Linked DNA regions of Homo sapiens: all the other regions are linked to region 3. Evidence: fine-mapped expression QTL. A gene starts in region 3. Each other region holds a variant in brackets. All regions are shown on one strand. Distances are between the middles of the regions. Region 1 overlaps CACNA2D4 (calcium voltage-gated channel auxiliary subunit alpha2delta 4). Region 2 overlaps ERC1 (ELKS/RAB6-interacting/CAST family member 1). Region 3 holds the start of CACNA2D4 (calcium voltage-gated channel auxiliary subunit alpha2delta 4). Region 4 overlaps CACNA2D4 (calcium voltage-gated channel auxiliary subunit alpha2delta 4).

Region 1 (8,094 bases), 110 kb before region 3:
TGTCCTCATGCCAAGGAACTTCTTTCCTCACCCTCGCTGGGAAGTCTTTCTATTCTAACTTTCCCAGCCAGAACAAGGCCTTCCTCTGCACACCGGCAGCCTGTGGAGTCCTAGTCTCACTCTGCCTGATAAGATATTTGGTTGAAAACTGTATGAGAACAGGACCATGTCTTACTCATCTCTGAATTCCCCAAAGTGTCTTGGTACCTGGACATACTCAGTCAGTGTGGAATGTTGATAGGGAAGGGAGGTGGGAACCAAGCTGATGGCCACGTCAGGTTCTTCATGGAGAGCTTTCTAGCTGCCAGGGCCCAAAATGATGACATGTGTGATAACTACCAATAAAAAGAAATGCAAGGCTGGTACAGGAGCTGAGGCACATGGGCCTGGCCAATCTCAAGGAAAGCCAGGCATTGTCTGGGTGCCCACCTGGGGCCTGCCCTGGGCAGCCAAGTAGACTCCAGCAAGCCTTCTGAAGGGAACAGAGATGTATTCCAGACAAGGGCTAGGCAGAACGCACAACTCCTGAACACCCAATGAACAACCAGAGAAGTTCTCTCTCAAATAAGAGATGATGGTGCAGCTTCAGGACAATAACCCCAGAACTGTTATGCCCATGGTTCATAATGCTGTGACTTATAATCAGCCAATATGGGGCCACAGGTCCCCAGATGCGCCCACACCAGGAATCTGGGATGGAGTCAGGAAGTATTACTTTCCAAATTGGACTTAAATAACAAAACATAGTCCTTACATCCTACAGTATTTCCTGTGTAAGTGGAAATGGCTGACTTATAAAATTAAAACGTAAGGATGCAACCCACTAAAAATGCATGGCAAATTGTAATCTAAAAATGGAGGGTCAATTACAAAAGTAAGCAGCAGGAAAACAGATTCAGACAAAGGTGCTCACACTTGTCTGTCTACACTCTGCTAGTTCTTTACCTGGAATGGCCTGACCACCAAAAACTATTTCATAATACCTTTTATTCATAAGGCACTCACCAGGTGAGTCTGATGCAAAGATGAATGAAATGGACACGAATCAAGAGCTTCAGACTAGTTTGCATGGACAGGCAGGGAACACACAAACTCTCAGACATGGCTGGCTGAAAACCGGCACCTCCTACGGTGGTGGAAAGGAGTGGCAACCTAAAGCCCTGGCAGGCTGCATGAAAGAAGGCAGTGGACATGGCAGCGGGACAGCAGGGAGGGTCAAGGGCATTCCAGGGACACAACAGCACATGGGAATGTGAAAGACATTGAAATCCTGCCTGTTCTTCACGGCGCAGCCCTGAAGCTCTCCCTGGTGCCTCCAGCTGGAGTAAACTCTCTCAGCTGGGGCTCGCTTTTTGCTATTCTAGTTACTGTGTGTGTGTGTGTGTGTGTGTGTGTGTGTGTGTGTGTGTGTCCCCTCCGTCACCCCCTCACCTGACAGCAGGATTCTAGGGGACAGAAATCCACTTCTGTCCCACAGCACCACACCATGTCCTGTTCACAGTTATTATTCCATGCATATTTGCTGAAGGAATGTGTGAGGGAATGAATGACCCGAGTCTTCTGCTCCCTGGGAAAGTGCAGCGGGGTGCAGACAAGGCTTCTGACGAGGCTGGTCTTAATTCCTACAAACCTGTCCCATTCTCCTTCCTAATTCTAGGCTTATTCACCAACAACCCTGTGGTTTAGACCCTGGATTCTGAGAAGAGAGGTCCCTGAGAGCAAGGATGTGTATCCTGGACACTAGAAAAATGTATCCCCCTCCATAAATTACTAGCTTGATTTTTCTAGGATTTGTCACTCTGGCAGAAAATATCCATTCTCCCCGTCTTCTTTAGTTAGGCAGCCTGACTTTAATTATGGCAGCCATGTGCTCAGCGAAAAGACTACATTTCCCAGTAGCCCTTGCGGCAGGGACTGGCCAATGGAATGTGAGCAGAGCCGCTGGGAGGGACTTCCGGGAAGCGGGCCCAAGGCCTCCTGCCTCTTCCCCATCCTCGCTCTTGCGCTCTGGGAAGTGGACTCGAAGGCAGGAGCCCCTCCAGCTATGCTGGGATCGTGCGGATGGGGACAGGCTGGGCCCAGGCTGCCTTCATCCATTCTTTTATGAGAGAATAAACCTTTAGTTGTTTAAGCCACTTCTCTTCTGGCAGCAGAACACAATTCCTGGCTGATAGTTTCTTTTGAACTTTGTCAGGGCAAATCCCCGACTCAAATACAGTCCCTGAACCTGCAAAGCGAAGGTCCAAACGTCGACGTGGGATGCCTTGTCGATTTAGGAGCCCCAGACCGCCCGTGGAGTGGCACCCAAAGCATAGCACGATGCAGGGGCCTGACCACCCCAGCCCCCCTTTCATGGGGGACAATTCACAAATAAGCAGTGGCCCGTGGGCTGCCTGAACTCTGGGGCTGGGTCAAAAGAGTCGAGGACCCCCCCTGCCTGGCCTTCGAGTCTGGAGGGAGGCCAGGAGGAGGAGGTCCTGTGAGCACCACCCAGAAGCCTGCGGGGGAAGCAGATGGGGGCAGAGGCAGGCGACCAAGTGATGAGAGGTTGGGTAGTCCCTCCCAGGCCTGGACTAATTTGCAGGGCTGTGGGAGGCTGTGCCCAGAGAGAAGGGGTGCTCTTGACTCTGATGACAGATGGAGTAAATGTCCCATGGCCTCCTTACCTGGGGACAGCCTCCGTTTCTTCTCTAAAGATGGGAGCTCATCCTCCTAAGGGGTGTGGACACTCAAGTCCCTGTGTCTGGCTCGGGTCGGGATCAGTTTCCTTTTGTCTGCTCCTGGCTTGTGCAGCCTCACCTGCCCCTCCGTCCTCCAGGCTGCAGTCTCTTAAGGAGTGTTTTGGACACTCAGGGGTGCCTGGGAGGTACGTGGAGGAGCGGGGTGGGGGTGGGGCAGCACTGCACTCCCCAGAAAGCCACCTGAAGAGCCTGCCTCTGACCACGACAGGATTAATTCTATTCCTGGAGGGCCCAGTGGAGCAGGGCCATTTGGGACGCCAGGAAGGTAGAAGGAGCACCGCTGCCAGGGCATGTGGTGTCCCGGAAGATGGCCAAGGCAGGCTGCCCAGAGTGGAAAGGATGGCAACACGTGCCAGGCTGGGATAGTGACTTGAAGATGAGGAGCCTGGGCTGGGCGGGCCGCAGGCGGCAGGGAAGGTGAGAGGGATTCAGAGAAACAGGAGCCGAGGCCCAGAAAGGCATGCCTGATGCCCCCTGACGACAGAGAGGGATGCCCTGCTCTGAGGGCCTGCCTGGTCCGGCTCACTGGGCTGGGGTGTGGAGGGAGCAGGGTGCTGTGCTCTGAGAGATCCAGGTCCCTCAGGGAAAGGTGCTGGGATGGGGCCTCGGATTTTCTAGGCTGCAGTTGCTGCCCCTTGAAGATCCACTTTGAAGCTTCCATGGGTGGGTGCCGCCCAGAAGCAAATGACAGGAATCGGAGTCCCCAGATTCAGGGTGACAGATCCACTATAAATATTACAAAGCTCCACAAAGCCACTGTCATTGCCTGTCCCCAGCTGTCTGCTTCTCTTTCTAGGCCCCACATCGAGGGTTGCAATCTTGTCATCCATAACTCTTATAAGAATGAGCCCTGGCCTGGAAGAGAGGCCAAATGTCTAATCAGCAGGCCTGGAACACCGCCGGTGCCAAGAAAGAGCCAAGCAGCCACTCCCTGGGGCTGGCTGCAGATGAGGCCCTTGTGGTTTCCCCACTCACTGACTACGGGGAGGAGGGTGTGCAAGGACTTTGTCTGGGAAGAATCTTTGCATCTGTAGCTCAACAGGCTTCTCTCTCCAGGCCCCTGGGTAAGCCCTAGCAGGGACAAGGAGTCGCTGGAAGCCTTTGACATATTTGCCTAGTCAGGAAAGTGACAGCAGCCAGCTAAAGTGCATTGAGATCCACAGCAGCCAGGAGGCCTGGGGAGGGTTCTCAACCCACCATGCACCCAGTCACCTGGAGGGCCCCTTTGAGCAGACTGCCAGACCCCAACCCCAGAGTGCTTGAGTCCCTAGGTCTGGGGTGGGACCCTGGCAAATCTGCATCTCTAACAAGCTCCCAGATGCTGGGGCTTCTGTCCTTCAGCCACACTGGAGGCCTAGAGATAAGCAGGGAGGAGCAGTGAGGAATGAATGAGTTAGGGGAGGCCAGGCCCTGTGGCCCTCGATGGCACTTGTGTGTTTGGGGAAGAGGGGCAGGTTTGGGTCGGTTGGTGGGAGTTGGTGGTGGGCAGACTCTAAAGTGGTTCACAATGATCCCGGCCTCCTGGGAGTCCTGCCCTTGTGTAAGCCCCTCCTCTTGAGTATAGGTTGGACATAGTAACTTGTTTCTAGCAAGCAGAATATGGTAAAAGTGATGGGGTGTCGCTTCTGACATCAGGTTTCAAAAGACTGTGACTTCCACCTTGGTTTGCTCGGTCTGATGAAGGAACTTTGAGCTGTGAGCTGCACTGTGAACTTTGCTGTGAGCTGCCCTGTGATGGGAGAGGAGGCCTCCGCCTCACAGCCCTGGAGGACCTCAATGCTGCCAACGTGTGACCAGATGCAGATCCTTCTCCAGTCAAGCCTGGACATGACATGACAGCAGCCCTGGGGACCTTGATGCTGTGGCCTGTGCAAGACCCTGAGCCAGCCGCACCCAGATCCCTCACCCACAGAAACTGCCAGATTTTAAGTCTTCTGCTTGTAAGCCACTCTTTTTGCCATAGTTTGTGTGCAGCAATAGATAACTGCTCTAGAGTTGTTAAATGAGTAAGTTTTTTTAAAAACAGCAAAAACAGATGGACGGACAGAGGGTCGGACAGCTGAACAAATGGCATTAGCCCCAGACTCTCCGCCGCCCTGTCTTCCACTC[A/G]TCTCCCAGTCTAGCGCCTGCTGCCTCCAGCCCTCACTCTCAGGCCAGTTCAGTTCTCCACACGGTTACCCAGTGTCTGCTGTGTGCCAGGCACCACACCAGGCAGGGTCTCTGGCCTAGTGCCCTCCCATAACCCGACACAGTTCAGGCTGCATGGTCAGAGCTGTCCAGAGTGAGGAAGGAGGAACTGGGCCCTGATCACAGTGGGGGAGCAAGGGTGAGCCAAGCACGGCGGGAGCGGGGGCCCCAGCAGGAGCCTCTAGAAGGTCAGTTCGTTTCTGCCCTGCTTCATTTCATGGAGGGTTTGGGATGGCATATAAAACTACACACGGGGTAAAAAGGTAATAGAATCATTGAGAAAATGGGGGTGAATGAGTTAAGTCAACAAATACATTATAAAATATAAATCTCTGAGTAATTGATTGCTACCACATCTAATCCAAACTTGTTCTCAGTGATTTTACAATCTGTGAAGACATGTGAGCAAATGTGGTCTGGACAGAATAGGACCAAAGTGGCCCAGTGGGTTATGAGAGGGTCCCTCGAGGGACCCTGGAGGGACCCTGGAGAGGCCACGTGCTCTCCAGCTTCTCTCAAGGCTGGGGTGGTTTCCCTCCAGGGCCGCCTCCCCGCACGGTTGTCCCGCTGCCTCTGGAGCAGGGGCTGGAAACTACAGCCCGTAGGCCAAGCCTGGCTCACTGTTGATTCATGTGAGCCCTTGATCTAAGACTGGCTTTTCCATTTTCAAGTGGTTGGGGAAAAAAAGTCAAAAGATTGATAACATCTCATGACACGTGAAATTTATATGAAATTCACATTTCAGTATTCAAAGGTTTTACTGGAGCAACGCCACCTGCATTTGCTCACAGATCGCCCATGGCTGCTTTCTTGCTACAACAGCAGGGCTGAGTCTCATGAAGCTCAAAACCAACATGTGCATCCGCCCCTTTAGGAAACGCTCGCCTACCCCTGCTCTTGAGCTTGCTCTCAGGCTTGGCCATCCTCTCCCTCTGTCCTGCCACCTCCCATCCCAGTGTCCAGGATGCAAGCTCTCTCTGGGATGCCTTAGCCCATGCTCCGGCCCTTGAAAGCCAACACCACGGGAGGCCTGGGGACACGGTCAGTCTCAGTCACCCAGGGCGAGAGGGGTCGGAGCACGAATGAGGGGGCATCAGTGATCCCAGAGCCTCACACCAACCACTGGTTTCAACTCTTATCATCACTGGTTTTCTCCCAGAACAACGGAAAAATACAAAGGTCCGGTGCTCTGTCTGGGGAGGAGTGAAATGACGAAAATGGGGCATGAAAGGGAGAAGGGGGAGGGTACCAGAGGCAGGCGCCCAGGTGACCGTGATGCTCAATTAGCTGTGTGTCCTGCAAAGCCCCGCCCACACTCCCACCAACAGGAAGTTGAACGAAACCATCTTTGGCTTCTCTACTCTTGTGGCTGAGAACTGCTGCTCGTTAAGTGGGTCATTTAAACACTACCCCAAGGAGTTAGATTTCATGACCCACTGGTGCCCCTTTGTCCTCACTTGCCCTCTTTCCCAAGTCTCCTTCCGACATCCCTGCTCCAGTTCCTGCCCTGTTCCGACGACTTCTTTGGATCCGAAGCCGCATCCCGGTCAGGCCAGACCACAGCCCTACCATGCGTGGAGGTGGCCTTGGCCACGACCTCTGCATCAGCCTCCACATCCCAGGAACTTAGAGCCCTCAGCTGGGGCTGGCTTAGACACTGTGTAGTCCAGCCCCCGGCGAGACACAGCTAATGGAAGTCGCTTGCCCACATCACGTTTCTAATTAGTAGCAAAGCTCACACAGAACCAAATACTATGCCCCTTTCCCCGAGGCTCAGGCAGGAGGCGGTTCTGATGCTTCTGCCTTGCTTCAAGGAAATACATCTGGTGAATATATCTGGATTTGCTTCAGGTTTGAATGGGCTTCTTTCTCAGTTTGATTCCTGGCTAAAGGAATAATCCATTTTGAGGCCCCTTTTGGAGCCCAGCAAGTATAAAAATATTATTGTACTTTCTCTTTTTCCTTTCTGAGCACATGCTGGGTTCAGGGAGATACCCACAGCCAGCGGGGGCGGGGGGAGGATTAGGATGTGCAAGCCAGGCATTCAGGCGAGAAAGCATCGCGTCCATCCCCCATTTCTTCTCTGACACACCGAAGGCCGGGCGTGGTGGGTGAGAGTATAATTTTCCATAAGGTCCAGACAGGACAAGAACATGAAGTGGGGAAGCCATGTCTTCTGGGCCCCACAATGGTAGAAAGGCAGGCGGGGGTTGGGGAATGATCTGATAAGTGAGTGTGCTTGGATCCTTGTGGGGAGGCCCCGAGTGAGGCTGGGCCAGTGTGGCCAGGCAGGGCCCTGAGATGGGGTCACTGAGTGGCTCCTACCAGGCACGGGAGGAGGCCAGGCTAGTGACAGATAAAATGAAGAAGTAATATTTTCTCTGACTCCCTGAGTTGAAAAGTGCTCCAAATTCTGCCTTCTTGCTCTGTTGACTTTGGTGTCAGAACACCATGTTCTTCAGACCTTTCACCTGAATTGGCCCCGAACAGGGTTCCCTCCTGGGGCCGTGGGGCTCTCTTTAGCTGGAGTGGCTGCCCAATGTCTCCAGTCCTCCTGCCGCCCTCTCCCCCTCATTCTATATCCCCAGTGACTCACCTCTCGGGACCTCTTGGAGATCAGAATGAACCCGTTGTTGTCGATGACGAAGCAGTCCAGATCCTGGGAGGAAACCCAGAAGGGAGGTTATGCCAGGGCCCTCACCCACCCCGGTCCTCCAGCCTGTCCCCCAGCTCTGGAAGGCAGCGTGGGAGCTTCACTGCAGGGAAGGAGGGCATTTGGGAGAGGGAAGCTGGCCTGCCAGGAGGACCGGGCGGAGGGCCATGGCTCCCTCCTCCACCTTCCTCACACGGGCAGAACTTACACTGTCCTCGCAGCTCTGTGTGCACGGCCCATCCACAGTGCTGCACTGGAAGGAAGAGGAGAGACTGAATGTGGACACTGCATGTGTAGTAGAAATGGCACGTGTAAGTGGGAATGCTGTGTGTGTGGTACGTCTGCAGTGTGTGTGCATGTGTGCATGGGGTGTGTATCTGCACATGGAGGGCACCTGTGTGGGGTGTGGGTGTGGGATGTGTGTGTCGTATGTGGAGAGCACGTGTGTGAGGTGTGTGCATGTGTGTGTCTATGTGTGGGGTGTCTGTACGTGGAGGGCACATGCGTGTGGTG
Region 2 (8,094 bases), 430 kb before region 3:
TAAGGTAGGGCACAGGAGCTCACGACTGTAAGCACTTTGGGAGGCCGAGGCAGAGGCGGGATTACTTGAGCCTGGGCGTTCAAGACAAGCGTAGGCAATATAGACTCCCATCTCTCCAAAAAATTAAAATTTAAAACATTGGCCTGACATGGTTATTATTGCCTCATTTTACAGATGAGGAAACTGAGACTCAGACAAGTCAAGGTCAGATGAACTGATCGGCAGAACTGACCTTGAAACCCAGGCAGCCTAACTCCAGAGCCTATGTTCTTAACTAGACTTTATATTCCATTTTTAATTTTCCTCCTTTCTTTCCTAAAACCTGCTGTCTCCTTCGTTCTTGGTCTTATTTGTCCAATATCCCCAGCTAGAATTGTCAGAAATGATTCTCCAGTTCTCCCTCACTTGACACCTCCTCCTTTTAGTCCTGCCTTTTGAAGAGGCTCAGACCTGTGTGTTCCTTTCCACGTCCCTGGCCCTCCCTTGCATCAGCCTTGCCTAACCCCCACCTGGGCTGCGAGCAGGAGCTGCCCTTGGTGGACTCTTCCTTCTGCTCAGTCTGAGAAAGTGGCGATGCTCATGTCACTGTACCATTTAAAACTGCGTGGACTCCTTTTTTGTGGTTGTGGTTTGGTTTCTAGGCAGATCACGCTGGAACGTCCTCACTTCACGTGCTCAGTCTGGCCCTCGCGTGTGTTTTCAGCTCCATTTCCTGTCATTCTCCACCCACTCCCTGTGCCTTACATTCCTGCCATCCTGAGGCTTCCCTTTTCGCAAGATCTGGGCCAGGCCTGTCCCAGCCCCACGCATCAGCCTTTGTTCTTCTGCGCTAAGCCTCCTTTGTCTTTGGTCTCCCAGACGGACTCTAGTCAGCTCTGAAGATCCAGACCCCACGCCTCTTTAGTAGCATTTCCTCAGACTCCTCAGGGTGAGCAGACACTCTTAGGGCTGCCACAGCACATGCTCAAGCCTCAGCTGCGGCCTCACTCTGCTGGGTGGTCGTTTATCTGTTTACATGCTTGTCTCCATTAACCTAAATGTGTCTTCAGGACAAGGACCAAATCCCATCAGCTTTCACCACCCAGCACAGAGTAGCGCTCAATAAAGGTTGGTTAAAATGCTTGAAGGAATGTGAAAGAGGCTGTTAAAAACAACAGGAAGTTAGAAATATACTTACTTCTAAGCAAAGGGATTATCTTGTGTTTCTCAAAGTAATCTCTTCAGCTAAATTAGCAGGCCTCAGGTGGGTAGGCTAATGTACCGGATGAAAGCGATACACGGCAAATGGAGAAGTCCTTTAAATTCTAAGTTCCCTTAGGGCGAGGGTCGCTCCACAAGGTTAGGATCCTCTCTGAGATCACCATGCCCCTCTCTCCTGCTCTCATGCACGTTCATGAGCCTGTGACTTGGTGGAGAGAACATTCTGTTTACAGTGAGAGGCCAGGACTGAAGTCACAGCTCTGCAAAAATGATCAGCTTTCGGCCTAGAACCAGTGACTAACTTTTTGGGCCTCACTTTCATGAAGACGCATTTGATATTTGCTTTTACACTTTTCTTATGGTTAATTTTGATGCAGAGAGACTTCACATACAGAGTGCCTTTGTCATTTATTGATGAAAAATAATTCTTAGCTCAGTGCAAATGGGATTGTTGTATCTGAAATCCATCTCTCCTTTCCCTTTCAGCTTCAGGATGAGTTAGAGAAAGGTGAACGGGACAATGCAGAACTGCAGGAGTTTGCCAACGCCATTCTTCAGCAGATAGCAGACCATTGTCCCGACATCCTAGAGCAAGTGGTCAACGCCCTGGAAGAGTCCTCTTGACCCTGCTTTATGGGGAAGCCTGAGGTAGTCAACCCAGGAGCCAAGAAAAGAGAACTACGAGGAACAGGTGCCCGGAACCTTCTTGGCACCAAACACTACAAACTTCATCCCAACTTGCTCACTTGAAGAAGTGTGATTCCAGCACCGTTTCTACATCTGCCATCTTACTCTGCCTTTCTGCTTTGGATGTGGTCTCTACACTAACCTTCTTGATGTCCAGGGTAGATAAAGGGTCGAATCTCTCTGAAGAACTGCCACCTGGTCATCAGCAGTGGAGAACTGTGGGAGCTGGTGGCTCTGCCCTGACAGAGAGCCATGGAGCAGAGGAGCCTCTCACCTCCTGTCCTCTGACATGAGAATGAAACCAGGAATGGACTTGGAGTTCAACAGGCTGAGAGGATGCCTCCAATGGACCAGAGAGCTGAGTGTTCTAATATCACAATAGGTGCTTTCTCCTAAAAGGGCAAAAAACAATCTCAAAAAGATTAGAAAAAGAGAAGGGGGGAAGGGAAGAGAAAATCGACTCTTCTTTTTACTGTCTCTTCTGCTTACTTTCCACATGAGATGCTTTGTACCGGGGAGCTGTGAGCAGGCCTCACGATGGCTTGGGAGCACTCGTTCTCCCAAGGTCTGAGTCTTCATCCAGCCCTGCCTGTCTGTCGCAGCCTTCCTCACTCTGTTCCTCGGCCAGTTAACAAGAAGATGGTGTGAGGTGTTCTCCACCAGTCTCTCCTGTTTGAGACTGTTGACGTTATCATACTGAGGTGTTAGATCAAATATCTCTAATTGAAGAACATGTGAGGTTGAAAGAGCACCAGCCAGGGCAACATAGCGTGACCCTGTCTCTACAAAAAATTAAAAAGAGAACATACAAAGTTGACATATGAGACCCTGTTGTCCCCGCCTGCAGCTTTGCCCCAGTAACAGATGCCCGTTGCTCTTGGGCTGGTTTCCCCTGAACACCTCCAAGAGGCTGCCTGCCTTGCCAGCACCCGTGTCCTGAGCTCCTGCAGCCCAGTGGCTGCTGAAGTTGTGATCCCTCACTCACCCTGCTAGCTTTGCCCTTGACTCGTCTTCTCTGAACCTCAGCCTCGTGCATTGCCTGGAACCTTCTTCTAGCATAAATGAAGGTTTTTCCTCCTACACACATTCCTTCCTCGGTTATTTCATTCAGAGAATATTTATGAAATGCCTACTGTGTGCAAGTCATCCATCCTTGAAAAGGCCACTTCTCAGTGAGGGAGAGATGTAGTGGATTCTGTGAGACATACCTGCTGGAGTTGAAGCAGTAAATAGCATGTCCTTCCCCTCCCCGATCTTAAGGTGTGTTTTCTAGAAAAGTTCCCTAATGGAATTCATGAGTTTGGGGGTCTCAGTCACCCGCTTGCCTGTAGGATTCCATTTGATGATTCTGGATTTTTGCTGTTTGTTATTGCCCTTAGAGGGGCTCTGAGTATCTACTTGTGGGTGGCCATTTCCTGACATCTGCATGTACCTCGTGGAATTCAGCCAGCTTCATGTTGCAAATCAGAAAGCTGACCCCAAGACTGCAAATCAATGAAGGTATTGGCATTGTTAAGGACGTAGCGTAGACAACAGCAGTCATAAATAATTAGGCAGGAACTTA[A/G]CCCAAATCTAGTTCTTTGACCACCTCTACCACCAGAACCCAGCAGACACTCACATCTCCTGATAAGAGTTGCTGGACTCGATGTTTTTGTTTTGCATTTTCTCCTCTCCTTCCCCACTTACTCAGAGAATTTAAAGTCTGTAGAGTCAGCACAGCCCCATCAGTCCAGGAACTTCCCACCACCAGCCCTTGACTGTCCCATTAACTGACATGGTCAGATTTCCAGCTCCCCCTACTCCCTGCTGTGAAACAATCCCTCTCCCTGTGAGAGGAAACTGTGGAGCGTTTCTTATCGAAGGTTAAATGGACTCTGCTCATAAACCTCTTACTGAGATGCTTCCTGATAGCCAGGCTGGCCAGAGAGGGGTGCAGGGGTTAGATAGTAAGTGGTGGTCGTTTGTGGTCAGTTACCTCAATTCTGTTCATTGCAGTGCCCGTAAACCATGTAGAAAGCTCCCAGCACTGAAAGGCAGGAGTGTTAGCATCTCGCTTTATCCACCATAACGTAAAGAACTGCGGTGTGATAACAGCCTTCACGGGGCCACGGTGGAACCAAGACAGCAGGCGAGGCCATGCCTAAACAAGTGGTCTGGCACGGGCACTGGCCAGCTGCTCTCTCCAAGCAGGTGGCCCAGATCCCACCCACGTGGACTTTCTCATCAGGTGCAGCGCCTGCCACTCTCAGCCACTGGGTGTGTCACTCTCCTCTTCATCTCAGCATTCTCCATCACTTCCCCTCCAGAAAAACGGATGGAAGGAAGCCCTCTGTGACACTGCTTCTGAGAAGAAGCATTTCCGGGACCGATATCATCTGTCTGGTCTCTGTGAACAGCAAGGAATCTTCTTGACCGTTCTTGGGCACTGGAGGCTGGCTAGGAGTTCAGTAATAAACGTGGCCTTCGTGCTGTAGGGCAGAGTGGATGCAGTTTGTAGCTTTCAGAGTGTCTCATTGAGTCTAGATCATTGAACCAACACTTAACCAAATGTCCCACTCCCATCACACTAGGACTTGTCATTCCATGCCCCTCTCCTAGTGGTCATGGTTTCATATGGGCATACAACTGCTACTGAAGTTATATAGCCTTGAAAACTCAGTGCAGGTTGCCCTTAATTTTCCCCAAACCCCTCCATCGGCAAGTCTAGTTGCCCTTTAGCACCTAAAGATCTGCACCCCAAACCAATGTCACCATAAAGAGGGCACGAAGAAGAGTGGGTGTGATCCCAACGGGGTTTTGTAACTGAAGAAGCCCAGTGTGAGCTTCTCATCTTTTCATATACCTCTAACCCCCGGTACTCATTGAATCATTGATGAGGTATCTCAATTGAGATTTGCAAGGACTTTGATACCATTTGAAATGGAAAAATTTTGAACGGGCTTTAACATGTTTAAGAAATATGGATGGGGCCGGCCACAGTGGCTCACGCCTGTAATCCCAGAACTCTGGAAGGCTGAGGCAGGCGGATCACCTGAGATCAGGAGTTCGAGGCCAGCCTGGCCAAGATGGCAAAAACCCCGACTCTACTAAAAATACAAAATTAGCCAGGCGTGGTGGCGTACGCCTGTAATCCCAGCTACTCAGGAGGCAGGAGAATCGCTTGAGCCTGGGAGGCAGAGGCTGCGGTGAGCCGAGATCGTGTCACTGCACTCCAGCCTGGGTGACAGAGACTCCATTTAAAAAAAAAAAAAAAAAATATATATATATATATATATATATATATATGGATGGGAATCACCAAATTCATCTCAGCTCTAACCTTTTAACCTTTGTCCTTGCACTTTACAATCTAAAGATCTACCTGTGGCTCTCAGACTTCCTCACACTTGGGTTTTAGAAATAACTTGTAAAGCAGACTGGACCCAAGGCCGCCTTCAGTGTCAAGAAGGGCATTGTGACTTGCCCCTCAATTTCTGTCCATTGAAGTCTGGTTTTCCATGAGGAACTTGCGGGCTCACCCACCCCCAGAGTGAGAGAAGAGGAAGGCGAAGTCATCACAGACACGGTCTTAGCCACCTGCTGAACTAATCCCTCCGCTATTGAGGGTCAGGGTTGTGAGGCAACCATCATGTGTCACCCCAAAATATAAATGTTTCTGAGCCGCCCATCCACTGGCATTTGGATTTGCTGCCAGAGTCCTGTTCCTCCCAGAACCATCCCGCCCTCCTGTTGACCATGTTACTTGAGTGTAGGCCCGGTGTCAAGACCCTCAGAGTCTTTGAGGAAAGAGCCAAGCAGAGAAGACCGCTGCGTGGAGTGTGACACCACATGGCATTTCTCAAGCCCAGCGGACCCTGTGTCAGCAAATACCAGTAATTTAACATCTGCTCCTGGCCTCCTCTTCACCTGCCTGGGTTCGGAACTGAGGAGGAAGGATGAGAAGAGACTGCAATGCAGCAGGCACCCTCTGCAGAGTGAGGCCGCCCGTCCATCACTGCCAGCCCTGGGCTGCTCAGGAGGGGACGTGAACCACTCAAAGGAATGTCTTAAAGAGGATCTGGAGTTTCCCCCATGCAAATTAGGGAAGAATTAGGCAAGAAAAGACATACATTACAGGGAAATCCTTCTGAACAAAATGGCTGTCTTCACCTACTCTTCTTGCAAGAAAAGACATACATTACAGGGAAATCCTTCTGAACAAAATGGCTATCTTCACCTACTCTTCAGCAAAAACCGTCTCCAGACTTTTTAGTGTCAAAAATGTAACCAACTGTCTCCTGATTTTTTCCAATGTGTTTGGCAAGTGCTGTGGCCCTGTTGTAGGTACTTCTCCTGACTCTTGGGGGAGAAGTGGTTTTAGGGATTGATTTGGGGGAGCGGGTTTTTGTCCCATCCCACCTCCTCTCTTCTTTCTCTGCTTGTCGATATTGTCTGTGTGATTCAGAGAATTGGGGCAGTTACATTGTGTCTGTTGTTGAGATTATTAAAAGATTAAAACGTAGTTGTAGAAATGAAAAATTAAACAGCTGTGTTTTAAAAATGCAAACCAATATCTTGTTAATAAAGGAATTCAAGCTATGGGGCAGCCACACTCCCCTCCTCCCAGGCTGGCATAGGTGGCCCTGGGCTGGCGGCTTAGGAAGCATGGAGCACACTTAGGGTAGTGCCTGCCTGGGCAAGAGACACCTGCCGAGCAAAAGGAACGAGAATCTGGGGCTCAGAGCCTCGCAGTTGTGCCAGGATTTTCCTATACATGTTCAGGACCTCTGGGTAGAGGTTTCACAGTTTGTGACCCCATAACCACCCTCACCCGACGTGGGTTCTAGCTCAGTGTGCCTAATACTGCATGGTAACCTGGGCTTGACCCTGAAGCCCCTGCCTGGCAGGCCACAGGACCTCTCCTGCCCACTTGGTGCTATCTCTTCCAGTGACCACCCAGCACGGGTGAGCACTGGCCAGCCTGGAGCCTGCAATCCAGGTGGAACAGACTGTCCTCCATGTCAGTTCCTTCTGGCTTCAGGCCCTCAATTATTTCCCTTTGAGCTTTTTTAGACCCTAGATCTCCTAGGCCCAGGCTCTCTCTTGACCCCAGAGAAGCCACTGTCAGGAAAGGAAGTGAACCCTACTGAAGCCAGAGAATTCACCCCGGCCAAAGCAGGCCCTCTGGGTCCAGCCCCTCATTCCACACCACGCCAGTATTGCATCCATCTACTGCAGCTACACATCCTGAGGGCAGCACCACCCACTCTGGCCTGCTGGCCCATCGCAGGACTAGCCCAGGCACCTGCCGGGCATTGCAGGATATCCAGTGGGGCCTGTGACTGCTCCCTGATGCGTCAGAAGAGAAGTGTTGCACTTTAGTGGAGGAGCTGAGGAGCACCTGCCCCCTTGTAGCTTGAGTTCCTTTTGGTAACAGTAGCAGCCTCCATGGTGGTGTCTGGGATGCACGTGCACCCGCTGCCTTCAGCTGTATGTGTGTGTTCCTGCTGGAGTTGTGTTACTGACAGGATAATGACATTACAAAGAAATTGTGTTATATTCAACTTTGCCTTGATAATTATTGTAAACACTTTGTTCATTTTTTCTTTTTTATTCACAAACTAAATCCACCAGGAAATTATAAAGTTATTTAAAAACCGTGCTGTGTCCTTCTTTGAGTGTCACCCAGCTGATCATCCAGGCAAGGTGTGTCCCCAAATGCTAGAAAAGATGGACAAGGTCTGCAGTGCCCAAGAGGCCAACTCCAATGGCAGGCAGCCCGAGGGCCAGGGGTCCCAGGATTTACGGTGGGTGTGGGAGTCATCACAGCCCTGACGGGCATGAGCCTCCTTTCCCTTCCCGCCTGATCTCCGGGTTTGCAGCTTTTAAAGTCAATTCCCGGTTCCCTTTTTCCTTCTTTCTACCCTCAGCCCCGGGCCAGGTTATCCGTATCAGGTCTCACTGTTCCAGAGCTTAGAGTAGGTGCCCAGCGCTGAGGGATGGTGCTGCTGTTGTACCAAGGTAGAAGAGCCAGAAGGGCGGCCACCAAGGGAGGGCTTTGCCCAGGACTGGGACTCAAGCTTCAGCAGGGCGCGTTCTGATGCACTGACTCTGGGGCGTGCAGGCTGGGTCAACAGAAAGTGTGTGTGCCAAGAGTAAAAGGAGCCGAGAAACCCTGTGCTTGGACGCGGCTGTCATTTCCAGCTTTGGGATTTGTCTTGGGCTTTA
Region 3 (5,539 bases):
CCAGGACTGAGCTTGACCCCAAGCTTCCAGGGCCTCTGGTTGGAGAGTGGCAGACTGAGAGGAGAGAAGGAGGGGAGAGGCAGTGGACAGCCTCAGGCCAGGGCCGGAGGACCCTGAGGACAAAGGACAACCTGCCTGGCCACAGCTGTGGCCTCTCAATAAATCGTTCCCTCCAGTGCACTCCACTCAAAGCCACTGGGGGCTGCCGAACCCTCTGTTGAAACCTCAGAGAACGCGTGAGGCAAGGGCACAGCAGGAAAAGGCTCTGAGCTGCCACTGCTGAGCCTGAGGGCAGGGCAGGCCAGGAGGGCATAAGGAGGCCACACCTCACCCTCTGTGTAGGCAGCCTAGTGGGGAGCCCCGACCTCTCGCCCATGCCCCAGAAATGCACCACAATCCCACCATCTTGGCCAGGCTGGTGGGGTCCTGGGGGCAGGTACACAGGGCTGGGGCTGAGCCTCTCCAGATGGAGCGGAAGTGGTTTGCCTGTGCGATCCTTTCAAGATCAGCAGTCATCACTCAACCAATGTTTATCAAGGTCCTACCATGTGGCAGCCTGGAGCCACCCCACAGTCCCCACCCTTGCAGGGACAGCTTTGTCATGCGGGTAGCATAGTACATGTTTGAAGGTGCCCATGAAGGTTGGGGAGGGGTAGTGGTATAAGGGAAGGCTTCCCTGGGGAGGGAGATCTGAGCTCCAGGTTAGAAGTTTGGTAGAGGTTAGCCTGCAAAGGGGTCTGGGAGAGGATTCTAGGTCGGGAGTACAGAAGAGCTTGGAGGAGTAAAACGTGACTTCCGGGCTTCCAGTGTGGGTTGTTGACCTGATGGTGTTGTTACTGAATACAATTAAGACTATCAGGAAGGGCAGGGGGAATGAGCTGAGGAGGGTGAAAAGTGATGTGTGTACCTTGGGCTCTGCTGAATGTGAGGTTCCCGTTGTAGAGCTACCAAGTACCATTGGGAAGGTTGTGCACTGCACAACTCTAGAAGGCACCAATTGTGTTTTACCTTGAAAGACACAAATCTGAATTTAAAACCTCACATGATGTTTAGGAAAAGCTGCCCATAAGCACTGGGTATGTGTCTAGTAGGTAGAGACAGGGCTGGGAGTCATTGATGCAAAGGTAGGGATTGAAATTCTGAGGGCAGGAGGGCTCTCTCAAGGAGAGTGTGCAGCGTGAGATCTCTGAGCGTCGACAGCTGCTGGGGAGCACCCCCCACCTCCGGGGCAGGCAGAGGAGGAGGAGCACTTGAGGACAGCAGAGATAAGCCGTGCCCATGCAGGCCCAGCGGAGCGCAGTGCCACGGAAGTCAAGGACTGGGATAAAAGAAGACGGGGGCTTGTGTGTCCCAAGCAACAGGGTCTGGGGTGACAAGGCCAGGAATGTCTCCTGGATTGGGCATGAGGAGGGCTTTGGGAACCCTGTGGAAACAGACTTGGGAGGAGGTGGAAGCCCGGCTGGAGGGAAAGACTGAGAAGAGAGGTTCGGCGGGAGTGAGGACAGGTGGGGCCAAGTCCTGGGCAGGCAGATGAGGCTGTGTGCAGGCTGTTGTCTCTGGCAGCACCCAGGGCTTCTGCATAGATGGCCGCTGGGGCCCCCCTCCCTGAAGGCCTGGATTCCAGCCACCCCGACTTGGCCCTCAGCCCACTCCTGGAGTTGGCCCTCTCCTATCAGCTGGTGTGTGTTCTGGGGATGAAAATTGTTCTGAACATCTCCTGCAGCAACAGATAGCGTTACGGGCTGGCGGCGGGTGTAATGGTGAAAGTGCAGTCCAGGCTGACAGGAGTTCAAATCCCAGCACCTTCACTTCCTGGCCTTGTGAACTTGGGGAAGTCACCTGACCTCTCGGGGCCTCTGTTTCCTCAGCTGCAAAATAGGGATAAAAATAAGCCCCCACTGAATGGCTCTGCAAACTAACGGTGTCATTTGTGAAGCGCCCAGCTCCGTGCCAGGCAGGGAACAAGGAGAGCTATGCGGCTCGATGGGAAACGATGCTGCCTAATCCACTGGTCAGCAAAGGCTAAGCACAGGCACGGTGTGTCATTTAGGCTCCCTGTCCCCACTCCTGCTAAGACATGCAGTTGGCAGGTGGCTCTGTTGGTGGCCTGGCTATGGTGCTGGGCTCAAGCGGCTGGAGTAAACAGGATGGGGTCTGTAGCACCTACAGTCTAGAAGGCTCTGCTACCCACATGTATTGGAAATTTCCTTCCTAGGACCACCTGAGCTAGGGCCTAAAACACAGACACCCCAGAGAGGTTGCACAGTAATTTACATGTACACCAAGGTGCACATGACTGATACCGGGTTCTTTCCTGGAGCCGGTCTTAATGGCCGGCTAGAGAATCAAGGTTGGAAGGAGGCAGAAAGGTGTAGAAAGGGAAGACTGCGGCCACCAAAATCCATTTTTTTCCCCAGTTCCTGGACAAGCCACCTCCTGTGCGCATGAGACGTTCTGTGGGTTCAGAACTGCTTCCCCTTTTTGGAATGTCAAAATACGCATTTCCTGCCAAATGCTTCGGGGAGCTGCGATGCTGAGATAACCCGGCTCCTCCAGGCTGCCTCATCTCAGCGATTATCCTGAAGGAGCACCCGCCCTTCAGGTGTCCCAGAAGCTGCTTGTCAGGCCAGGAAGACAGCAGCCCTGATGATCAGTTCTTCCTAAAGCCATCCGGCTCCTGGGGAGAGGCAGGTGGGACTCCAGAACTCACAGAGCTTTTGGGAGGAGAAAGAGGAGGCCGGAGAAGCAAAGGGCTTTACAGCAAGAGAGTGGTCAGTCGCAGCCACTGGGGAAAAGCCCAGAGGGAGGGCAGGGGCGGGAGGAGTGGGCAGAGGATGGAGGCCCAGCCCGGGAAGAAAGTGGGAAAGGGTGACCGGGTTTTTGGGGTGGGGTTGAACGTGATGCTTACGTTTCCAGAGGAATCTTGGCCTGTCCCCACGCAGGGGACAGGGAGGTGCCTAGAAGCAGCAGCCACAGGAGGGCCGAGGTCTTCTGCACAAAGGCCCAGGCCACGGGCATTGGCTGGAGGGGAATCCAGCGGCTGCTGGAGCTGGGGTTTGCGAGGAAGTTGGGAGTTGCAGGCATGGTGGGCCTGGGGTTGGGGAGGGGAAGGAGGGCAGAGCAGCCACAGACCATGAGCTCTGTCTGCCTTCCTCCCAGACCCCAGGACGCCCCAGGCCTTTGTCTTCCGTGCCTTGGCGAGCCTGGGGTCTCCAGCCTCTCAGTCCTGGGTGGGGAGGGCTTCTCTCTGCCCCACAGCTGCAGCTCACAGAAGAGTCGCCCCACCTAGCAAGCAGGCCTCGGAGACAGGGACTGGGGGAGAGGCTGTGGCAACATGAAACCCTTTAATCCGCTGGCCTCTCCTCTAATCCTCTCCTGACAGCAGGGAGGGGGTGGCAGGGGGTGGGGAGCTGCCTCCCAAGATTACCACAACTGCAGCTGGTTCCCTCAGGGCTATAGTGCACCCCTCTGCTTTAAAGAGGCAGCCCCGTTCCTGTGGAACCACCTTCTGGACCCAGGAAGGGCTTGCTGTGACTATGGCCAGAGGACAGCAGCTGAGTTTGCACAGTACTCTGATTGACCCACAAATCTCTTGTTGACCCTGAGGTGGGGGTGTGTCCTCATCCCTGCTTGGCAGAGGCTCTTGAGGCCCGGGGAGTCCCAGGGGCAGAGCTGGGACTCTGGCTGGTGTTTCCAGGCCTGGTGCCTTTGGGACAGGTCATAGGTCATAGGTGAAGTCAGTGGACCCACGCCTCCACATCTCAGCTGCTCGTGGGCGGGGCTGGGGACGCATTTGCTGTGCAACTGATGAAGCTTCAGGACCCCTGAATCCACAGACTCCCCCCTTTCCCGGAGAGGCCCTAGCAATGTGTTCCTGTGGCCAAATGTTTTTGTAAAATATGCAAAAGTTGAGATAGTTTAACCATAACCGGTTGAGACTGTCTGTCTCTTTCCATCCCAACTTCTCTTCCGTCTGAGGGACTCTTAGTTGGATGATGTTTGGGTGGCTGAGGGCACTTGGGGGATCCAGTTAAGAGGAAAGTGAGCTGGGGAAACACTTAATCTGGGCTTAGTGGGATATGCTGACATGGTTCACAGTGACTTCTTTGTACAGAGAAGTTACCTCCAGCTGAGTGTAGGCAGGGCTTCCAGGAACACTCATCCCACAGGACATCCCACCAGCAGATGCAGCAAGAGAGGCTGGGCCGTGATGTGAGCGCACGCTGTCACACCCACCCTGGCCATGTGTGGTGGGGAGGGCAAAGTAACAGTCAGGAGCTCATCTGCAGAAAATCTACAAAAAGCCACACAGGTAACATCGTTGGTGGAGGATTTGGTTCTCACCAAGGCCTGGCCAGGACAGAAGTTCTCTCCTGTTAGGAAAATAGTGGATATTGAAAGAATATAATTACACCGTACATTGCTTTGTGTTCTGATGAGAGTTACACAAATTAGAATTGATCAAAATTCTTGTGTTGTGAGCCCAAACCAGTAGTAGTACCACATGGGTTCTCCGGGGGTGAAGTCATAGATTTTATGCAGTCCCCGTATCAGATTATTTTCTTAGTGTAACTGGTGCACTGTGTCTTCACAAAATCTGGTGGTTCCAGCAAAATGGTAAGCAAAATTGCCACCAACGCAGAGAAATGCTTGCAGAAGCAAGTGTTCTGATGACAAAACTCCTACACAGATTCATCAATAAGTCAGTGCTGTAGTATCAGAGTAATCTGGTGGCACAGTTTTGTGGCTGAATACAATGTATTTTTTAAAGGCATCTAAATGATTCCTATGAATGCCTTAATTTCACATAAATTTTGTACATGTTTTGAGGATTACAAATCAAACACATTTAGAAAAAATACTACAGAGGCACACTGGGCAGTCAATACATAAAAAGAATGTAACTTCTCTAGGTTTTGTGAATTTGGTGGAATTCACCAGCTTCTTAAAATTTGTAATTTGGAATGATTTTTAAAACTGAATAAATATTCACCTTTTTTCAACTTTTTTATTGTGGCCCAATATTTATTGTGGCATAAAATGTGCCATCTTAATCATCTTTTTAAGTGTACGGTTTAGTGTAATTAAATACATTAATCATGTTGCTCCACCTTCGCCGCCATCTATCTCTATAATTCGTTCATCTTGTAAAACTGAAACTCTGAACCCATTAAACACTAGCTCCCGTTCCCTCCTCCCCCAGCCGCTGGCGGCCACCACTCTCCTTTCTGTATCTCTGATGTTGACGGTTCTAGGGACCTCACAGAAGGGAAGTCATCACATAGTTGTCCTTCCATGACTGGCTCATTTCACTTAGCACAATGTCGGTAAGGTTCACCCACGGTGCCGCGTGTGTCAGAATTTCCTTACTTTTTGGGGGTGACCAATGATGGGTTAATATTTCATTGTGTGGATAGACCTCATTTTGTGCATCCGTTCCTCTATCGATGGACCCTGGGGTGGTGTCCTCCTTTTGGCTACTGTGAAATATGCTGCCGTCAACACGGGTGTGCAAATATCTCTCGAGATCCTGCTTTCG
Region 4 (7,480 bases), 120 kb before region 3:
CGGGGTACGCAGAGCTCCCACACCCTTTCACCAATTCGGACACTCTCCAAACACAGTGGCTCGGGGATTTTATGGAGGCCTCATTATGATCATTGATTAAATCTTTGGCCACTGGTGATCAACTCAGTCTCCAGCCCCCTTCCTTTCCCAGAAGCCAGGGGCTTGGAGCCAAAAGTCCCAACCCTCTAATCCTAACTTGGTGTTTCCTGTGGCCAGCTCTCATCCTGTCTAGGGCCCCCAGCCACCAGTCATCTAATTAGCATACAAAGATACCTCTATCATTCCAAGGGTCTTAGAGGCACCTGTGAAGGAACCAGGGACTAAGACCAAACACTATAACAAAAGATGCACCTATCACCCTAATCAGGAAATAACAAGCGTTTTAGGAGCTTGCCAGGAATCAGGACAAAGACTAAATAAAGATCTGTTTCTTATTATATCACAGTGTCACAGGGCATAAACGCGAATGTTTCCCCCGAGAAGCACAGGCACAGGTGTGTTCATTGGCATCCCTATATGCTCCTGTCTGCAGGGGCACAGACCCAGGCACAGAGGGTTTGGGGATGAAAATCCAGCCCACCCTCGATCCGCCTCAACCCGCACCTCTGGATGGAAGGCGTGGCAGGAGTCTGGTCGCCGGCGGAGCTTCTGGGAGCGCATCCGGTCACATTTGACAGAGGCATTATGTGCAGAAGCCACTGTTAAGGTCAATATCTCAGGACCGGAGCCCATTCTGCAGACTGGAAAAAGGTCTGGAAGAACCTGCTCTGGTGCCACCAGTTGCCCTGCAAGCAGCTTTAGGGTCAGGAGGCAGCACCGGGGCCCAGGGAAGGGTTAGAGAACAAATAACGGAGCCCTGTGGAGGACACGGGCGGTGAAGGAGGCTGGCCCCGCTGCTCAAAATCTGAGCCCTACAGACACCTCCTACAGCCCCCGCCCCCACCGCACACATCCCCGAGCATTGCAGGATATATTTGACTTCTGTCGCCTCCTGCAGCACTGGTGGGAAGATGCTGCAGTCACAGGTGGGGTCTGTCACCAGGAGGAGGAGGTTACTGTTGGGAATCTGCTGCACCACAAATACCCTGCAGCAAAGAAAGGGAGTCGAGGATGGCTCCGTGGCGACCACGAGAAGGGCTTCTAGGGAAGGAACTTCTGGAGACTTTAGTGTGGAGTTAGGGTGGCAGGGAAGCCCGGAACCATGAGGCAGGGCGGGTCGGGGCAGCTAAGGGAACGGGCCTGGCAGATGGCTCAGTCCTACTGGCTTTGCTCACAAGCCTTTGCTGCTGCATTTCCTTTCCTAGCAGACTGGAGACAGTGAGGAAGTCCAAACTGGGCCGCTTTGGAGAGTGCAGAGTTGCTATTAATATATGCAGGGACGACAGGCGTAAATCAAGACCGTCCGGAGCAAATGGGCGGGCGAGGCAACACTTGCTCTGGGTGAGGGTGGCGGGGGCAGGCCCGGGCGAAGCGGCAGCGCTGGAGCTTGGCCACCAGGTGGCGCAGTGGCCCCGCGCTCGGCGAGGCCGCCCTGCGAGGAGTGGCGCGGAGTGGGGCGGAGCCCGCCCGCCAGGCCCACGGCCTTCCCAGCAGTCCCAGCGGCCGCCTACCGAGCGCCTCCCCTGGGATGGGCGGTCTCACACACCCAACGTGCACACCACAGCCGTGTATACTCTCAGCCTTCACGGCTCTGTATGAGGCTGGTGTTGTGCCCATTTTGCAGATGAGAGAATGGAGACTAGAGGAGGCGAAGTCACTTGCCCACGGTCATAAGCGGGGGAGCGCAGAGCCAGTTTTCAATTCAGGAGTGTCTACTCTGAAGCCCTCGCTTCACTCCGGAGCCCGCTGGCTCTATCCTCGCACCGAGCCTTTGCGACAAGTGCACAGGGAACGCTAACCCCAGCCCTCAACGCTGCACAGAACCCGGGGTGAAACCCGCGCAGCACGACGCGCAGGGAGTGGGGGAGAAGGGAGCCCCGATGCCAGCGCCGCAGGTGCCGCACTGTTAAATGGTGTGCCACGGGCCCGGGGGTCTAGGGACCGCCTGGCGAGCGGCACGTCTGGCTGAGGCGACCCTCGAGGAGGCCGCCGCATTCCCAGCGTGGGGGTCCTCCCGGGCTTGGGTGCGGGGGGTCAGCAGGAGAGACCCTTCCGCGCGGCCTCCCTGCCTCCCCGGGGCCAGGGCGGGTTATAACTAGCGGCTTCCACACAGCAGGAAGCCTGACAGAGGCTGCCCGCGGGGCTCCCAGCGACCCGAGGACATCGCACACTTCCGGCCTTCTCTTCTCACACTCCCTCTGCCTTCCAAGTTCTCCCCACGCAGCTCAGGCGCGGGCACTGGCACCGCCCTGGGCACCGCCTGAGCAGGGCTGGGGGAGACCCGCCGAAGGGCCCACTCGCCCAGAGACGCCGTGGGGTCACGGCTGCGGCCTCGGCGGGGTGGGCTCGACACACAGGGTCAGGCCTCGGGACCACCTCTCCCCATCCCGGCTGTCCCGGTCCCCAGCCGTCCTGCCCGCCTCAGACCGTCCGCCTCCTGCGTGTCTCCTCCACTGAGGACGGCGGGGGAAGACCCCGGGAGCGTGGGCTCTGCACTTAGACGCATCCCCTCCTCCCGGCTGTGGAGCCGTTTCCCGGGGGTTCCGGGGCCCTGCCCGCACTTCCGCCTTGCCGAGGGCGGGAGGAGTGTGGCGGGACGGGCGGCGCCGCCCTGCGGTCTTACTTCTGGCAGGGCCCGCACTCCACGATCCCGTTGGCCTCCCGGATGGCCGGCTGGTACACGAACACGGGGTACTCCGTGTCGCAGGGCTGCAGCGGGTCCTGCTTCTTGTGTTTGTGGGCTGCGGGCGGAGAAAGGACATCACGCCACCGAAGGGGCCTCTGGCCTGCGGTGACCTCGCCTCGGCACTCCCAGGGCCAGAGTTCACCCCAGTGCATTTGCAGAGGGTCCCTCCTCAGGCAGTTCTCAGGACACGCGTGGGAGGAGCCGGGCGGGGGGTGAGGGGAGGGAAGACACCCGGAGTCTCTGGAGAGGGTGGCTT[G/C]GCACGGGGAGCGCCGCAGGGGCCCTGAGCCTCGGTGGAGGGAAAGCGCTTCCTCTGGGGAGCCTGGCCCTCACTGAGCTGGGGGCAGTGCACCATCTCCAGGGCCCCTTCCAGCACTCAGATCCCGGGGGAGGGTCTGAGCGGGGAGCAGAGGCAGTAGGGGCACCAAGGGGTGGCTTGGGGGTACTTAGGCCCACCACCCCTCCCTTCACTGTGGACAGACGCAGTGCAGTTCCTGGGCAATCCTGCCCTGCTCTCCCGCACAGCCAGGCCCACACTCCACCCATTGAGCCTGAGCGCCTGCGGTGGGGGCAGCCGGGCAGGTGGGCTCCAGGCCTGGGGCTGCGGAAGCCCAGAAGCCACAGCCACCCGGTGCGGGACTCCTCGGGGGCTGCGCGATTTGCCTTAGCTCCCTGGGACAAGGACAGTGGACTCAACCAAAGGTGGAGGCGAGTGCCTCAGCCCCGCTCTGCAGGACCCGAGTCCGTTCCCTCCCGGAGCCTCCTGAGGTGGGCACATGGCAGAGCAGGGCCCTGCCACACAGGCTGTCTGCATGGCCCTTCTGTTCTCAGGGCCTGGCTGTGGCCCCCAGGGATAGACCTAGAGGCAGGGAGCACAGGTGTGAGCTACCTTCCCAGGCTCATGCAGAGTCCTACAGGAGAGCATGGGTCTCCCCAGCTTCCAAATCCAGAAGCTCCCAGCCAGAGCTGGAAACCCAGAGGGGACACTAGCTGGCGTGCAGAAAACTCTCACCGAGAGGAGCAAGCCCACAGCGGCCAGGGCTGTGAGTTTTGTCCCCAGGGCTGGGCACAGAAGCCTGCCTGACAATGGCAGGGTTGAGTGGCGTCCCCAGGGTCACGCAGTGGAAGGGGCTGCAGCACCTACGCCCCGGCCTGGGACTCCAAGTCCAGTGCGCCTTCACTGGGGACACTGACATCTGTGTAGGCCAGACCAGGGGGAGGAGCTCCAGGGGACAGGTACCCCAGAGAAGAGAAATTCTGAGCAGGCAGATTGAGGGGGATCATCTTCAACTTTTGCAAGATGCAGCTGCTGACAGAGACAGAGGGGACAGTGTCCTGTCACTGACACCTAGTGACTGTGAACACCCCAGAGCAGCCCCACCCGATCGCGGATGTGAGTCCAGAAGGAGTCTGGAGACACAGCCCGAACTGCCCTGAGCCCAGGGGCAGAGGAAGCCCCAAGCCAAGGCCAGCAGAAGAGAACGAAGAGCAAGCCAGAGAGAGGACCACAGTGGAGATGAAGAGATGGGATAAGCTGGGGACAGCCCAGGTGGTGGGAAGTTCTGGAACCCCATGGCAAAGGTTCTAGGAACACGGAGGAACTGAGCAGAGCCCGCTGAGGCAAGATGGCCTCCTGCAGTCATGGAGGGCCCAGGCGCCCGGGCAGTGAGTGCTTTGAAAGGCCAGGCTCATTGCCGCCCTGCACGTGTGGCCACAGCCACCGGGCTTTGTGTTGGGGCCTCTCATGGTTGCTGCCTCTGGGGGACTCTGTCCTCAGACACAGGGTCCCGCAGGGGAATCATCCTGAGAGCTTCCTGGGGCCCCTGGAACCCGGAGTCCCGCTGAGGGCTGGGGTGCCGCTGTTTGCTTCTCCAAGGGGTGGGCTGGAGGTTGCTCACTCATACTGGCTCATGGCCACCCGGCCACACCACCGGCTTCCTCTTGGAATCTTACGTGTTCTCACCCAAGGGGAGGCTGGAGTTTCTCATTTTCCCTGGGGCCTGACCGTCCTCATGTGGGATGAGAACTGGGCTAGACTCCCCAGTCCCCCAACCCCCAGGAATGGTACTTTAAACCAGGAGAGCTCAGCCCTGCTTGGGGTCATTCCTGGGACAGGTCATGGAGGGTGGGTTCTTTGTAGCTCCTGCTGCGTCCCCAACCCACCGCCAGCAGGGATGGCCTCAGCTGGGCTACTTACAGTGATGGAAGACACTTTTGGCTGGCCGGAACATAAGCCCAGCACAGGGTGGACACGGCACAGGAAAACATGGTGGCACATGAGGGCAGGATGTCATGGGGTGGTGATGATGGCACATGGAGTGGCGGTGTCCCAAGATGATGTCACACACAGAGCCAGGAGTGAGGGATGTGATGAGAGAAGGCCACGCAGGGTGAGATGTGAACAACGATGCTTCAGGGTCACCTATCCCCACTGTCACCCACCCCACAGGGAATGGTCTCACGTTAGTGGACCAAAATGCCACTGCTCTTCAGCACATGGCCCTGCAGCTCCGTGCACTCACCCTCGGCCCCTCTGTCGTACCAGGAGCCCCAGACACTCCACTCCAGCAGGAACCTGTCAGACACAGGACTGAATCTCGGAGACCTCTGAGCCCTCCCGACTTGGGTTCCCAAGGAGCTGGAGTATCCCTGACAGCCCCCGGCCCATCCCCTCTCCTCCAGGACACCCTCTTCCCTGCTTGAGGGCTCTGGTTGAGCAATGAGGTCCCTCCCAGGGGCAGCATGCAGGGAAGAGGTGGCGTCCATGCCCAGGGATTGTGCCCTCCTTCCCCGGGGTCTGGTAGCAAGTGGGTTGTCCTGGAGACCTTGCAGCCTCCTGCTCAAGGACACCCTCCTAAGCCACCCTCGCATGCAGCCCTCCACCAGCCCCGTGTCTACCCCCACTCACAGCACCAGCTCCTGCAGCAGCCACCTGGTCGCCGTCAAGAAGGCAGAAATTGGCTGGGAAGGAGAGAGTGCACACCGCTCGCACCTAGGTCCAAGGGTGAGGGTGCCCCCCCCCCACCACCAGCACCACCCTCAGAGAGACCAGAGAGTGGGCTGCCCTGCCACTGGGAGCAGGGGCAGCAGAGCACAGGCCAGCAGCCCAGCACCCCCCATCCCCCCACCTCCCACCTGCCCTGCAGAGCTGAGCTAGCTGGGAAATGCCTATTGCAGGTCAGACATCTCGGGTGGGGTTGGACATGCCCCTCCAGGAGACGAGTCAAGCCCTCATCCTGGTGCTGCACTGCTGAGGATCCCTGGTGATCAAGCGGCAGTGTCAGGGGCTGAGGCTGGGGCAGGCTGCTCTCTCTGTCTCCGCCAGAGGCACTGTTGTGTCACAACTACCAGAGCAGTCCCTCTGAAGCCCCAAAGCCAGACCCAGAGGCCTGCCTGGGAGTGGGACTGAGAGCAGTGGCTCTGAGCAGAAGATGGAGATGGTCAAGGTAGGGCCCTGGGGCCAGACACCCAAGGTGGGTGAGAACAGGGACCAGTGACCTCATTCCAGGACAGGGCAGAGGACTGGCTGGCTGGCTGGCAGAGGGAAGGGCTGGGTGACACTCACGCTGACCAGGGGCTGGGCTGCACTGTGGTGGTGACTCGAGGGTTTGCACATGGCCTGATAGTCATACATAGTCACTCTGAAAATCAGAAGCGGGCTGTGATGAGTCCAAAGCCACCCCCACCCCCTGCCCCTGCCTCAGGAGGCTTTACTAGCAGAGCATCCGTTTACCGCAATTCCCAAGGGCGCCTGAGCTAGGACAGCAGATCAGAATACAGCTCATGCTGAAAATTACATTTCTGCACTTGGAATGGTTTAAAGACAATGAAGAGCAAATGGCTTTTGCCCTCGGAGTTGGACGGTTTTCCCTCTAGGGTCTGAGCTGCGGAGCCCCTCCCAGGGATGCCCACATGCCCTTACGCCCTCCCCACATCATGCTGACGCCCTGGCTCCATAAAGGTTGCTTTTGCAGCTCTTTGGGGGCACCCACTGTGGGTTTTGGAGGTCAGGATCCTGAGATCCGCCAGGACCACTTAGCGTCAGCTCTCGGTTTGCTGTGTCTATTTGGACTGGGGAGGAGTGTGCCCCACTTACTGGCTGAACACCCCCATGCTGAGCAGCTGGGTCAGGACAGCACCATCCACCTCCCCCAGAAATCTTCCCGTCTGTGAGAGAGGGACAGCAGAGAGAGAGGGAGGGAGAGAGATGGAGCAGGATGGAGCCTTCCGAGTCCAGCACTATTTATTCAGCTCAGGTCGAGGCTTTTGGTGCCAGTTGGGCTTTCCCTCTGACTGCCTCTCAGCATAATCCAGCTGAACCCTTCCACCCACGCCCCTGTCCGGTCCTGGCTCCCTCCTCACCGTCCAGCCTGGTGCTTCCTCAACTGGAAGGAGTCACCCGCTAGCTGACTATGAGACCAACGTAGAGGCTGCAATGTGATTTTTTTAATGGTACAGAATTCCTTGGAACAATTCTGTGTGAATCACTTGCAGCAAGGTTAAAGAATGTTTTATGAAACTGGATTTGTTTTATATGCTGTGTGTGTGTGTGTGTGTGTGTGTGTGTGTGTGTGTGTGTGTGTTGGGTCAGATATAAAACACGTTTCTGCAGGTCAAGGTCAGAAGCAGCGCCTGTCTCATGCACGCTGGTGTCCTCATCTTCCCAGTGTGAGAGGGCTGCTGTGGCTTTTGCTGTCC

Evidence for each region. PIP is the estimated chance that this variant, and not a neighbour inherited with it, causes the effect.
Region 1: its variant is fine-mapped to the expression of CACNA2D4 in whole blood (INTERVAL, PIP above 0.99).
Region 2: its variant is fine-mapped to the expression of CACNA2D4 in monocytes after LPS (Fairfax 2014, PIP 0.95).
Region 4: its variant is fine-mapped to the expression of CACNA2D4 in thyroid (GTEx, PIP above 0.99). The same link has a PIP of 0.9 or more in breast, esophagus muscle, fibroblasts, gastroesophageal junction, sigmoid colon and subcutaneous fat.

The regions. Positions count from the first base shown.
Region 1 is chr12:1,802,754-1,810,847 of GRCh38, forward strand. It overlaps CACNA2D4 (calcium voltage-gated channel auxiliary subunit alpha2delta 4), which reads right to left. Exons shown (of 38, transcript NM_172364.5): 28 at 7,790-7,834; 29 at 7,525-7,587. It overlaps LOC105369602 (a long non-coding RNA gene), which reads left to right. Exons shown (of 4, transcript XR_931549.3): 2 at 2,950-3,158; 3 at 3,538-3,805; 4 at 4,377-4,744. Among named protein-coding and RNA genes, the nearest start is that of LRTM2, 14 kb to the right of the region's middle. RefSeq lists enhancers at 1,740-2,662, 1,790-2,084 and a silencer at 1,823-1,982. The variant A/G (reference allele first, on the strand shown) is at 4,851.
Region 2 is chr12:1,488,407-1,496,500 of GRCh38, forward strand. ERC1 (ELKS/RAB6-interacting/CAST family member 1) reads left to right here. Exons shown (of 19, transcript NM_178040.4): 19 at 1,687-7,525. The coding sequence ends at 1,824. Among named protein-coding and RNA genes, the nearest start is that of LINC00942, 8.0 kb to the right of the region's middle. RefSeq lists an enhancer at 354-1,553. The variant A/G (reference allele first, on the strand shown) is at 3,452.
Region 3 is chr12:1,915,339-1,920,877 of GRCh38, forward strand. CACNA2D4 (calcium voltage-gated channel auxiliary subunit alpha2delta 4) reads right to left here and starts at 3,314. Exons shown (of 38, transcript NM_172364.5): 1 at 2,909-3,314. The coding sequence starts at 3,135. RefSeq lists an enhancer at 1,387-1,963.
Region 4 is chr12:1,794,696-1,802,175 of GRCh38, forward strand. CACNA2D4 (calcium voltage-gated channel auxiliary subunit alpha2delta 4) reads right to left here. Exons shown (of 38, transcript NM_172364.5): 30 at 6,879-6,949; 31 at 6,348-6,423; 32 at 5,691-5,743; 33 at 5,305-5,357; 34 at 4,980-5,000; 35 at 2,723-2,840; 36 at 973-1,085; 37 at 604-686. It overlaps LOC105369602 (a long non-coding RNA gene), which reads left to right and starts at 5,744. Exons shown (of 4, transcript XR_931549.3): 1 at 5,744-6,228. RefSeq lists enhancers at 852-1,419, 1,531-2,436, 2,437-3,341 and silencers at 1,380-1,709, 2,050-2,179, 2,280-2,509. The variant G/C (reference allele first, on the strand shown) is at 3,042.